Linked DNA regions of Homo sapiens: region 2 is linked to region 1. The links come from fine-mapping of genetic effects on gene expression. A gene starts in region 1. The other region holds a variant in brackets. All regions are shown on one strand. Distances are from middle to middle.

The links. PIP is the estimated chance that this variant, and not a neighbour inherited with it, causes the effect.
Region 2: its variant is the best candidate, but not a certain one, in a credible set for the expression of TMED1 in whole blood (Lepik 2017, PIP 0.62).

What each region holds. Positions count from the first base shown.
Region 1 is chr19:10,833,653-10,839,002 of GRCh38, forward strand. It overlaps TMED1 (transmembrane p24 trafficking protein 1), which reads right to left and starts at 2,560. Exons shown (of 4, transcript NM_006858.4): 1 at 2,357-2,560; 2 at 1,604-1,701; 3 at 1,282-1,465. The coding sequence starts at 2,539. It also overlaps a transcript of C19orf38 not described here. RefSeq lists enhancers at 1,058-1,695, 2,333-2,969, 2,735-2,834.
Region 2 is chr19:10,968,759-10,974,115 of GRCh38, forward strand. All of the region lies in intron 1 of SMARCA4 (SWI/SNF related BAF chromatin remodeling complex subunit ATPase 4), which reads left to right. Among named protein-coding and RNA genes, the nearest start is that of SMARCA4, 10 kb to the left of the region's middle. RefSeq lists an enhancer at 4,531-4,580. The variant C/T (reference allele first, on the strand shown) is at 2,168.

The sequences.
Region 1 (5,350 bases):
CTGAAGCAAGATTACACCTGTAATCCAAACACAGGAGGATCACTTAAACCCAGGAGTTCAAGACCACCCTAGCCAACATGGTGAAACCTCGTCTCTACAGAAAACAAAAAATTAGGCATGGTGGTGCACACCCGTAGTCCCACTGAGGTGGCAGGATTGCTTGAGCCCAGGAGTTTGAGGCTGCAATGGGCTATGATCACACCACTGCACTCCAGCCTGAGTGACACAGCAAGACCTTGCCTCGCCGTAGCTCACACCTGTAATCCCAGAGCTTTGGGAAGCCAAGGCAGACAGATCCCCTGAGGTCAGGAGTTCGAGACCAGCCTGGCCAACATGGTGAAACCCTGTCTCTACTAAAAATACAAAAATTAGTCAGTCAGGCGTGGTGGCACAGCTATTCAGGAGGCTGAGGCAGGAGAATTGGCTGAACCTGGGAGGCAGAGGTTGCAGTGAGCTGAGATCGTGCCACTGCAATCCAGCCTGGGTGACCAAGAGAGATCTGTTAGAAAATAAATAAATAAGTAGTTAATTAAAATACTAATAAATGTACAGAACATATTTGCTTGTGGTTAAGAGCATAGTTGCTGAAACCAGCATGGGTTCAATACCAACTCTGCTAGTTGGTCTGTGTGGCCGTGAGTTGCTCAGCCATCTTGTATCTCACTTTCTCCACCTGTAAAATGGGGATGACTTGAGCACAGGGTCTGCTTCACAAGGTGGTTTGGAGATTTACGGTATGAGTTATTTATGATATGAGTTCCTTAAACCTTTACACCAGGGTTTATACCTAGAAATGAACTACTTTTTTTTTTTTTTTTTTTTTTGAGACGGAGTTTTGCTCTTATTGCCCAGGCTGGAGTGCAATGGTGCGATCTCGGCTCACTGCAACCTCTGCCTCCCAGGTTCAACTTCCACCTCCTGGGTTCAAGTCATTCTCTGGCCTCAGCCTCCTGAGTAGCTGGGATTACAGACGCCCGCCACCACACCCGGCTAATTTTTGTATTTTTAGTAGAGACGGGGTTTCACCATGTTGGCCAGGCTGGTCTCAAAACTCCTGACCTCAGGTGATCCACCCGCCTCAGCCTCCCAAAGTGCTGGGATTACAGGCGTGAGCCACCGTGCCCGGCCTGAAATGAACTACTTATTTTAAGAGCTGCTACTCTTACTATAATTCAGTTGGAGGGCACAACTACGGAGGGGAGGCTGGGTCAGCCCAAGGGGGGCACCCCAGGTGAATCCTAGAGATCTGGAAGGAGTGGCCCCAGCGCAGCCTGGACACACCTTGATGTCCTCCATTTTAACATCCAGCATCTCCTCGGGCTCCACAGCCTCTGCCCATCCTTCGACCTCCTCGTCATCCTGGAGGCTGTCAAAGATCAGTTCAAAGAACACCAGCTTCTCGGAGATGGTGCTGAAGGAGTTGTCAAAGCACAGCTTGTAGTCCCCGGCCTCCGTTGGCTCCACCCTGGGCAGACAGACACACAGACATGACCCAGGGTGGCCAGCCAGCCGACTCAGCGGGGCAGTCAGGGCGGTAACCTGAGGCCGCCTGGGAAGGGCAGGGCTGTAACTGAACCCAGGCAGGCATCAAGACTGAACTCACGTGTGTACCCCATCAGCCTTGCGGGACTCGCTGACCAACAGCACGCCCTGAGGGCTCTCCAGCGTGAAGTCCACGTCCAGTCCAGCACCTCCGATCACCTGGGGGGCAGGTAAGAGCGGGTGGAGGGCTAGCGGTAGGCCAAGGGCGCCTGCCGAAGAGGGCTACGGCTGAACCAACACTGATCAATACAGACCACCAAGGGCTTACCTGAACGGCGGCACACCCACACCCGCCCCAACCTGTCCCAGTGGCTGCGCCCCTTGCCTCCACCCTCATTGATATGACAGCTTGGGGTCCATACTTTCAGCTGACCACGCACCTACCAAAAGTACTTAATGGACGTTTACCTGACCACGCCCCTGGTTGGCTCCGCCTCCGAAAGAGGATAGGCCCAGCCTTTTTCCTTAGTCTAACCCCCGAGAAAGGCCTGTGTGGGCAACGCCCCCGCAGTTGACCTATCAGCACTATCGCCACGCCCACCAGCCAGAGTCCTGTCCTCTCAGAGGCTCCCTATACTTATCGATGGCCCCGCCCCCTCTGGATCTCTTACTCTAGCCCCGCCTGCTTCATTACTCCCTCCCCTTCCGCTCCCACACACCGTCCCCGCCCCATCTGTCCATCTCTTTCTAGCTCCGCCCCCGCGCTCCCAAGCACGGATTCCTCCCCCTTCCTCCTAAAGCGCGCCTCGCCTCGACCGCTTGGCCACGCCCCCTCTCCCTGACTCTGCTGGCCGCCCAGCCCGCGACCCTCTACCTGGTATTCGGTCTCGAGGCTTGCGTTGGCCGGCGCGGACTGGTAGAAACACTGCTTCCTCCCCGCCGGCAACAGGAACGTGAACTCACCGTCCTGGATTGGCGGGGGCCCCGCCCCTCCCACCTCCACTGGTGGCATTAGTAGCCACAAGGCCAGGGCTAGGGCCGCGCCGGCCGCCATCATCCGGGTCACCCTCTGGTCTGCAAAGGGGTCGCGGCTCCTTTAAGCGCTAGCCCTGCCCCGGTGCTACTCGGCGGAGCTCATTGGCAGTGGCTTCTGTATGTTGTCCGTAACCAGAGGTGCCAGGAGTGAAGGACCCCCCCACTAGAGGGCAGGCGGCCCGAATGAATGCCTGATGTGCCCAGAAACACTCAACCGTCTGGGAATATTTTTCTCAAAGGCTTCGGCTCTCTTCTCGGCCGCTGGTGGAGGAAAATTACAAAAATAAGTGCCATGATGGCGCATCTTTTGTAGGCAGTAGCTAAGACAACTAAAGTTACAGGCGGCAGGGTCCTTTTTAGTCACCTCCACGTGGTTTTCCCAGAGTGCGCCGCGCGTGACAACCTTTGGCGGGACCGACGTGGTGGAGTGGACCCAAAAATAGCGTCTAGGCGTGGCCCTGTACGCGACCCGTAGGGCTCGCCTATAAAAGGGCTGGGGCGGGGCGGAGATACCTGTGGCGTCGTGTTTTGCTTGCTCTGTGAGCGTGGTCCAGGTTCGACGCCTTTTGCGCCTTAGAGGCATCAGCGTATCAGTTTCCTCGTAAGTCGGGAGTGATGGAACGACCACCCTGTAGTGCGGCTGTGAGAATTGAGATGAGGCTTGGTTCATATTGAGTGCTCAGCTTTCCTGGCTTATAGACAGTGGAGGGGCGTGGCCCCACCATGCACCCCAAGGGTCTCAGACTCAAGGGCCAGCAGGTAAATAGAGCCATTACAGTAGCCTCGGGTCAGAAAAACGACAGCCCAGGTAGGAAGAGATAAGGACAGTGTGGGACTGGGAGCCACGTTGCCTGGTTCAGCTCCTGCCCCACCCATTACTTGAGGCATTCCCTCTGTTGAGCCTCAGTTTCCTCTTCTGCAAAATGGGGATAATAGGCCTACGCTACTGGGCTGTCTTTAGGATACGTGAAATGCTTGTTGAGTGCTTGCTTCCGCAGTGCGTGGGACATCACAGGCCCTCAGTAAATAATAATCTGTTATTTGGTTCCCGTCTAAACATAAACTGTGTACAGGGAGATGTTTAGTCTTCAAAGATAAACCCGGAAAAGGTTGGCAGGTGATGACAAAGATCCCTCAAATACAGCTGGCTGTTGTCAGCACTTTCCTGCATTTGGAGAATTTGGGGAAGTAGCTCTTTGTAATATCAGTTTGGTATTCCTTTTCACTCCAACTTTTTCTATCATTTACACTCACTGCTTGGACAATTTGAAGTAACAGTGGAGAACGGGTGACTCCTTTTCTTTTTTTTCTTTTTTTTTTTAATTTTTTTTTCCTTTTTTTTTTTTTTTTTTTTTGAGACAGAGTCTCCCTCTGTTGCCCAGGCTAGAGTGCAGTGGCGCGATCTCGACTCACTGCAACCTCCGTCTCCTGGGGTTCCAGCGATCCTCCTGCCTCAGCCTTCCGAGTAGCTGAGACTACAGGCACGTGCCACCACACCTGGCTAATTTTTTGTATTTTTAGTAGAGAGGGGGTTTCACCATGTTAGCCAGGATGGTCTCGATATCCTGACCTTCTGTTCCATCCACCTCGGCCTCCCAAAGTGCTGGGATTGTAGGCGTGAGCCACTGCACCCGGCCGGATTTTTTTTAGGACAGGGTCTTGCTCTGTTGCCCAGGCTGGGGTGCAGTGACGCCATCATGGCTCACTGCAATCTCTACCTCCTGGGCTCAAGTGATTCTCCCACCTCAGCCTCCTGAGTAGCTGGGACTACAGGTGTACACCTCCATGCCTAACTAATTTTTTGTAGACATGAGGTTTCCCTGTGTTGCCCAGGCTGGTTTCAAACTCCTGGGCTCAAGCCATCTGCCTGCTCCCTCACCCTCCCAAAGTGTTGGGATTACTAAAATTGATTTTTTTAAATACAGTAAAATTCACATTGCATAAAATTAACAATTTTAAGGCCGGGTGTGGTGGCTTACACCTGTAATCCCAACACTTTTGGAGGCCAAGGCAGGCGGATCATGAGGTCAGGAGATCGAGACTATCCTGGCTAACACAGTGAAACCCCGTCTCTACCAAAAATACAAAAAATTAGCCAGGCGTGGTGGCGGGTGCCTGTAGTCCCAGCTACTCTGGAGGCTGAGGCAGGAGAATGGTGTGAACCTGGGAAGCGGAGCTTGCAGTGAGCCCAGATGATGCCACTGCACTCCAGCCTGGGCGACAGAGCAGGACTCCGTGTCAAAAAGAAAATAAAAATAACCATTTTAAAATTAACAATTCAGTGGCATTTAGTACATTCCAGTGTTGTGCAGTGACTTCTATGTAGTTCCAAAACATTTTCATCGGCTCAGTAAAGATCCCTGTACCCATTAAGCAGTGATTCTGAAACGGCCTCGTTGTCTTGAGTAACACCCGGGGTCGTTGTCTCACAGCCACGAAGAACAAGGACCAGGACACACAAAAGAATGAGGTTGAGAACGAACGTTTAATAGGCAACGGAGAGTATAGCTCTCTGCTACAGAGAGGAGTCCCAGAAAAATGGGTTGCTGGTCCATAGCAAAATACAGGGGGGTTTATAGATGAGCTGGTGAGGAGACTTAGCCTGATTTACATAGGGGATGAAAAACTGGTTAGAACAGGTGTGCCATTTGCATAGGGTGTGAATTTCTGGTATCTGCTAATCTTTTATTATGCAGCCGGGGTCTCTACCTGAGCTGTGCCACATCGCCCATTTCTTTTTCTTTTTTTTTCTTTTTTTTTTTTGAGACAGAGTCTTGCCCTGTCACCCAGGCTGGAGTGCAGTGGCGTGACCTAGGCTCTCCGCAACCTCCGC
Region 2 (5,357 bases), 140 kb after region 1:
AGGGGGAGGGTCTGCTGTGTGCGACCCATCTTGCTCCGAAAGTCCCAGTAAAGGGGCATAGTGGATGTCTCATTGTGCCCAGGGAGCTGAAACTGCCCCTGTGATGATCAAATGTGATTCTGGCACAGCCTGGACTGGCTGGGCACCTGAAGGCCTTGCCTGCCTCCTGGAGGCATCTCCTGGGTGCCTGTGGGAGTGGCTCTTTACTTGCCCTTCCTCTTGACTCTGCCCTTCCTCGACCTTCAAGGTTCTCATCCTATTCCTTTTGATCCTCGGCCTGAATCAGTTACTCAGGCCCTGGAGTCAAAGAGACTTGAGGCGGGATTCTGTTCTGCATGGCTTAACCTCTTTGAACTCAGAATTCCGTTTTCCTCTCAGAATCTCCCTGGCCTCCACCCTCTACCTCAAGAACCAGGGGCTGAACCCCGGCCCTGCCTGTCTTTGCCAAGCCTTGCTCTAGGGCTTGGTCAGCCTCGAGGAAGGGGGGCCTTGTTATGTTTATTTAAAAATTTATGTTTTAGGTTTTACTTTCTTAGAAGTGGAGGTCTTGATGTTATCTCCCAGGCTGGTCTTGAACCCCTTGGCTCAAAGGATCTGCCTACTTCAGCCTCCCAAAGTGCTGGGATTATGGGCGTGAGCCACCACGCCTGGCGCCTTTTTATATTTCTTTCTTTTTTTTTTCTTTTTTTGAGACAGAGTTTGTCTCTTGTTGCCCAGGCTGGAGTGCAATGGCGGGGTCTCGGCTCACTGAAACCTCCGCCTCCTGGGTTCAAGCGATTCTCCTGCCTCAGCCTCCCGAGTAGCTGGGATTACAGGCATGCACCACCACACCTGGCTAATTTTGTATTTTTAGTAGAGACGGGGTTTCTCCGTGTTGGTCAGGCTGGTCTCAAACTCCTGACCTCAGGTGATCCACCTGCCTCAGCCTCCCGAAGTGCTGGGATTACAGGCATGAGCCACTGCACCTGGCCCCCTTTTTATGTTTCTAACAGCACGTCCCAGCCGAGACCCTGGTGTTCACCCTTGCCTCATCTCTTGCCCTCACTTGCACATCCATTCCATCAGCATGTCCAGAGAAATTAAAGTCATTATCAGACCGTGCCACTCCCGTGCCTGGAACATTCTAGCAGCTCCCCACTGCACTGGATGCTCCTGGAACCCCTTTACTGTGGCCCTCAAGGCCTGTGACTTCTCCCCTATGCCCCACCTGTGGCCGCACCCACTTGCCCTCTGAGGTATGATATGGAATATATTTGGTCTTTGCGCCACATGTCATAGGAGTGATAGGTGTGTCTTTTAAAATTCATAATGAGCCCCTTTTGATCACAGCTGAGTTTATGCTTATGAGGTGATTTAGGATGGGGCTCCTAGATAGCCCAGGATGGGGCTGGTTACCAGAAAGACCAAGTGCTTAGAGGGTGGCATGTACGGAGGGGCCATTGAAGCTGTCTGTATTGCTTCCATCTGGTTGACCCCGAGTCGTATCCGTTATAATAAACCATTAATGGGAAGTGAAGTGCCTGCCTTAGTTCTGGGCGCTGCTTTAGCAAATCAATCAAATCGAGGAGGGGGTTGTGGGAATTCCCAATTTATAGGTGGCTGGGCAGAAGTACTGGACCCTGGGATGTGCAAATGGCATTTGTAGTGGGAGCAGTCTTATGGGACAGCTCTTTTTCTTTTAGAGACAGAGTGTCACTCTCACCCAGGCTGGAGTGCAGTGATACAGTCATAGCTCACTGCAGTGTCCAGCTCCTGGGCTCATGTCATGCTCCCGAGTAGCTGGGACTACAGGTGTGCACCACTGCCAGGCTTAGCTAATTTTTAAATTTTTTGTAGAGACAGGGTGCTATACTTCCTAGGCTGGTTTCAAACTCTTGGCCTCAAGCAGTCCTCCCACTTTGGCCTCCCAAAGCACTGTGCTTAGGTGAGCCCACTGCATCTGGCCGATAAAGTCCTTAACTTGTGGGAGATAGAGTCTGAATTGAGTTAAATTGTAGGACACCCAGCTGGTGTTTGGAGACTTGGAGAATTACTTGGAAAAGACCCACGCATCTGGTCACAGAATTGTTCTCGGTTATGAGAGTATAGTAGAAGAAAACTGGTTTTCTCTGAGTTGGTGTCAAAAGTGCTGTGTGAGAGTGTAGAGAAACGGAGTGTGGGCCAGGCA[C/T]GGTGGCTCACGCCTGTAATCCCAGCATTTTGGGAGGCTGAGGCGGGTGGATCACCTGAGGTCGGGAGTTTGAGACCATCCTGACCAACATGGAGAAACCTAGTCTACTAAAAATACAAAATTAGCTGGGCGTGGTGGCGCGTGCCTGTAATCCCAGCTACTTGAGAGGCTGAGGCAGGAGAATCACTTGAACCCAGGAGGCAGAGGTTGCAGTGAGCTGAGATCGCACCATTGCACTCTAGCCTGGGCAACAAGAGTGAAACTTCATCTCAAAGAAAAAAAAAAGAAACAGAGTGTGTTTTCCCACCTTCCCTGCTCCAGCCACACTGGCTGACTTGCTGTGCCTTGGAATATGCCAAGCACAGTCCAGGGCCTTTGCACTTGCTGTTCCTCTGTGGTAGATAAATAACCACATGGTGCCCATGTCACTACAGATCTCTGCTCAGACATCTTCATCACTGAGGTGTCCCAGGCTACCATAGAAGGAGTGCTTCTCATCTGTTAACCCTGCGAACCCTGCTTGATTAGATTTATAGCACTTCCACCCTCTATGTGACATTGTGTCTTTTTTTTTTTTTTTTCTCTTTGAGACAAGGTCTTGGTCTGTCACCCAGCGGGGAGTACAGTGGTGCAATCATAGCTCATGGCAGTCTGGACCCTCCCACCTTGGCTTCCCAAGTAGCTGGGACTACAGCCGCATGCCAGCTAATTTTTGTATTTTTCGTAGAGACGAGGTTTCACCGTGTTGCCCAGGCTGGCCTCAAATTCCTGGCCTCAAGTGATCGACCTGCCTCAACCTCCCAAAGTGCTGGAATTACAGGCGTGAGCCACCATGCCCACCCTGAATACTTTTTTTTTTTTTTTTTGGAGGGGGGAGATGGAGTTTTGTTCTTGTCGCCCAGGCTGGAGTGCAATGGTGCGATCTTGGCTCACTCCAACCTCCGCCTCCCGGGTTCAAGCGATTTCAATTTTCCTGCCTCAGCCTCCTGAGTAGCTGGGATTACAGGCGTGCACCACCACGCTTGGCTAATTTTTTTTTTTTTTTTTTGAGACGGAGTCTCGCTCTGTCACCCAGGCTTGAGTGCAGTGGCACAGTCTCAGCTCACTGCAACCTCCGCCTCCTGGGTTCAAGCGATTCTCCTGTCCCAGCCCCCACACCGAGTAGCTGGGATTACGGGCGCCTGCCACCATGCCGGCTAATTTTTGTATTTTTAGTAGAGATGAGTTTTAACCATGTTGGCCAGGCTGGTCTCAAACTCCTGACCTCAAGTTATCCACTCGTCTTGGCCTCCCAAAGTGTTGGAATTACAGGCATGAGCCACCAAGCCTGGTCCTAATTTTTTTATTATTAGTAGAGATGGGGTTTCACCATGTTGGTCAGGCTGGTCTCGAACCCCTGACCTCAGGTGATCCACCTGCCTCGGCCTCCCAAAGTGTTGGGATTACAGGCATGAGCCACCACGTCCGGCCCTGAATACTTTTTTTTTTTTTTAATATAACACTTCCACTTTCTATGTGACATTGTGTCATGTTTGGCTATTTCTGTCACTCTGCTGTCCACTCCTCCAGGTAGGAATTGTGTTGTTCTCTGCCAGATGCCTGGTGTTTGGAACCAGCTTGGTGCATTCAGCGCTGTTCGTATTTGGGGGTAGTCATCAGTAAGTCCTCTGCTGTGGCGGTGGGGAAGGCCTGTCACGAGTGACACTGGGCAGGTATGGATTCTGCATCTCCCTGCCCACTCTTGGCCTTTGCATGCCTCTGTTGTGGGGACTCCTCTTGCCGTCTCCACACAGTGTCACTCCTCACGCTCAGTGTTGCGTATATAGCTGATAACACAGCAGACCCGGTGGTGGCGCAGGACATCCATCCAGTGGGCCTCGGCCAGCCGAAAAGAAAGAATAGGGGCCGGGCACAGTGGCTCACGCCTGTAATCCCAGCACTTTGGGAGGCCAAAGTGGACGGATCATCGGCTCAGGAGTTTGAGACTAGCCTGGCCAACATAGTGAAACCCCATCTCTACAAAAAATACGAAAATTAGCTGGGCATGGCGGTGTGCGCCTGTAGTTCCAGCTACTTGGGAGGCCGGGGCAGGAGAATTGCTTGAACCCGGGAGGCCGAGGTTGCGGTGAGCTGAGATTGTGCCACTGCACTCCAGCCTGGGTGACAGAGCCAGAGTCCATCTACAAAAAAAAAAAAAAAGAATGGGGTTATTGATGTTCCACAGGGAGCGTGGGTCAGGATGGATTTGTGACACTTGATGCGGTTACTCTGCGTGTTATGTTTCTGCTGGGTCACATTGTCACATGGAGACATGATCAGAAGAGCTTGAAAAACATCCATCTAATTGATAGCTAGGATAGCATTTGCAGGCTTGCAGTGTAGACACCACACGTCCCTGTGGGGTTAGAGGACACTCCCCTAAGGCAGAGAACCGTCCTGGATGCTTTTAGGTCCCTTGGGTAGGTGCTCTTAAGCGGTTTTCTTTTTTTTTTTTTGAGACGGAGTCTCGCTGTCACCCAGGCTAGAGTGCAGTGATGCAATCTTGGCTCACTGCAAGCTCCGCCTACCAGGTTTACACCATTCTCCTGCCTTAGCCTCCCGAGTAGCTGGGACTACAGGCCCCCGCCACCACGCCCAGCTAATTTTTTTTTTTTTTTTTTTTGAGACAGAGTCTTGCTCTGTCACCCAGGCTGGAGTGCAGTGGCATGATCTTGGCTCACTGCAAGCTCCGCCTCCCGGGTTCACACCATTCTCCTGCCTCAGCCTCCCGAGTAGCTGGGACTACAGGCGCCTGCCACCACGCCCGGCTAATTTTTTGTATTTTTAGTAGAGACGGGGTTTCACCGTGTTAGCCAGGATGGTCTCGATCTCCTGACCCTCGTGATCCACCCGCCTTGGCCTCCCAAAGTGCTGGGATTACAGGCGTGAGCCACCGCGCCCGGCCTGGAGGTTTTCTTATAGACCACCGAGGGGAACATTTTGTTTTGTAGTTCACGCATAGTAAACGGGGCTGGCTCTGCGGAAGCCATCCTGCCCATTGCTGTTGTTCCGCCCAAGCCTCTGCCATAACCTGACTCCCACGTTGGTCTGCTGCTGAAATGTGTCCGTGAACAAATTTCCCCAAGCCCCAAAAAACACAATAGCAGATATCCTGGGACCAAACTTAAATATAATGCTAGTTTCTCATGCA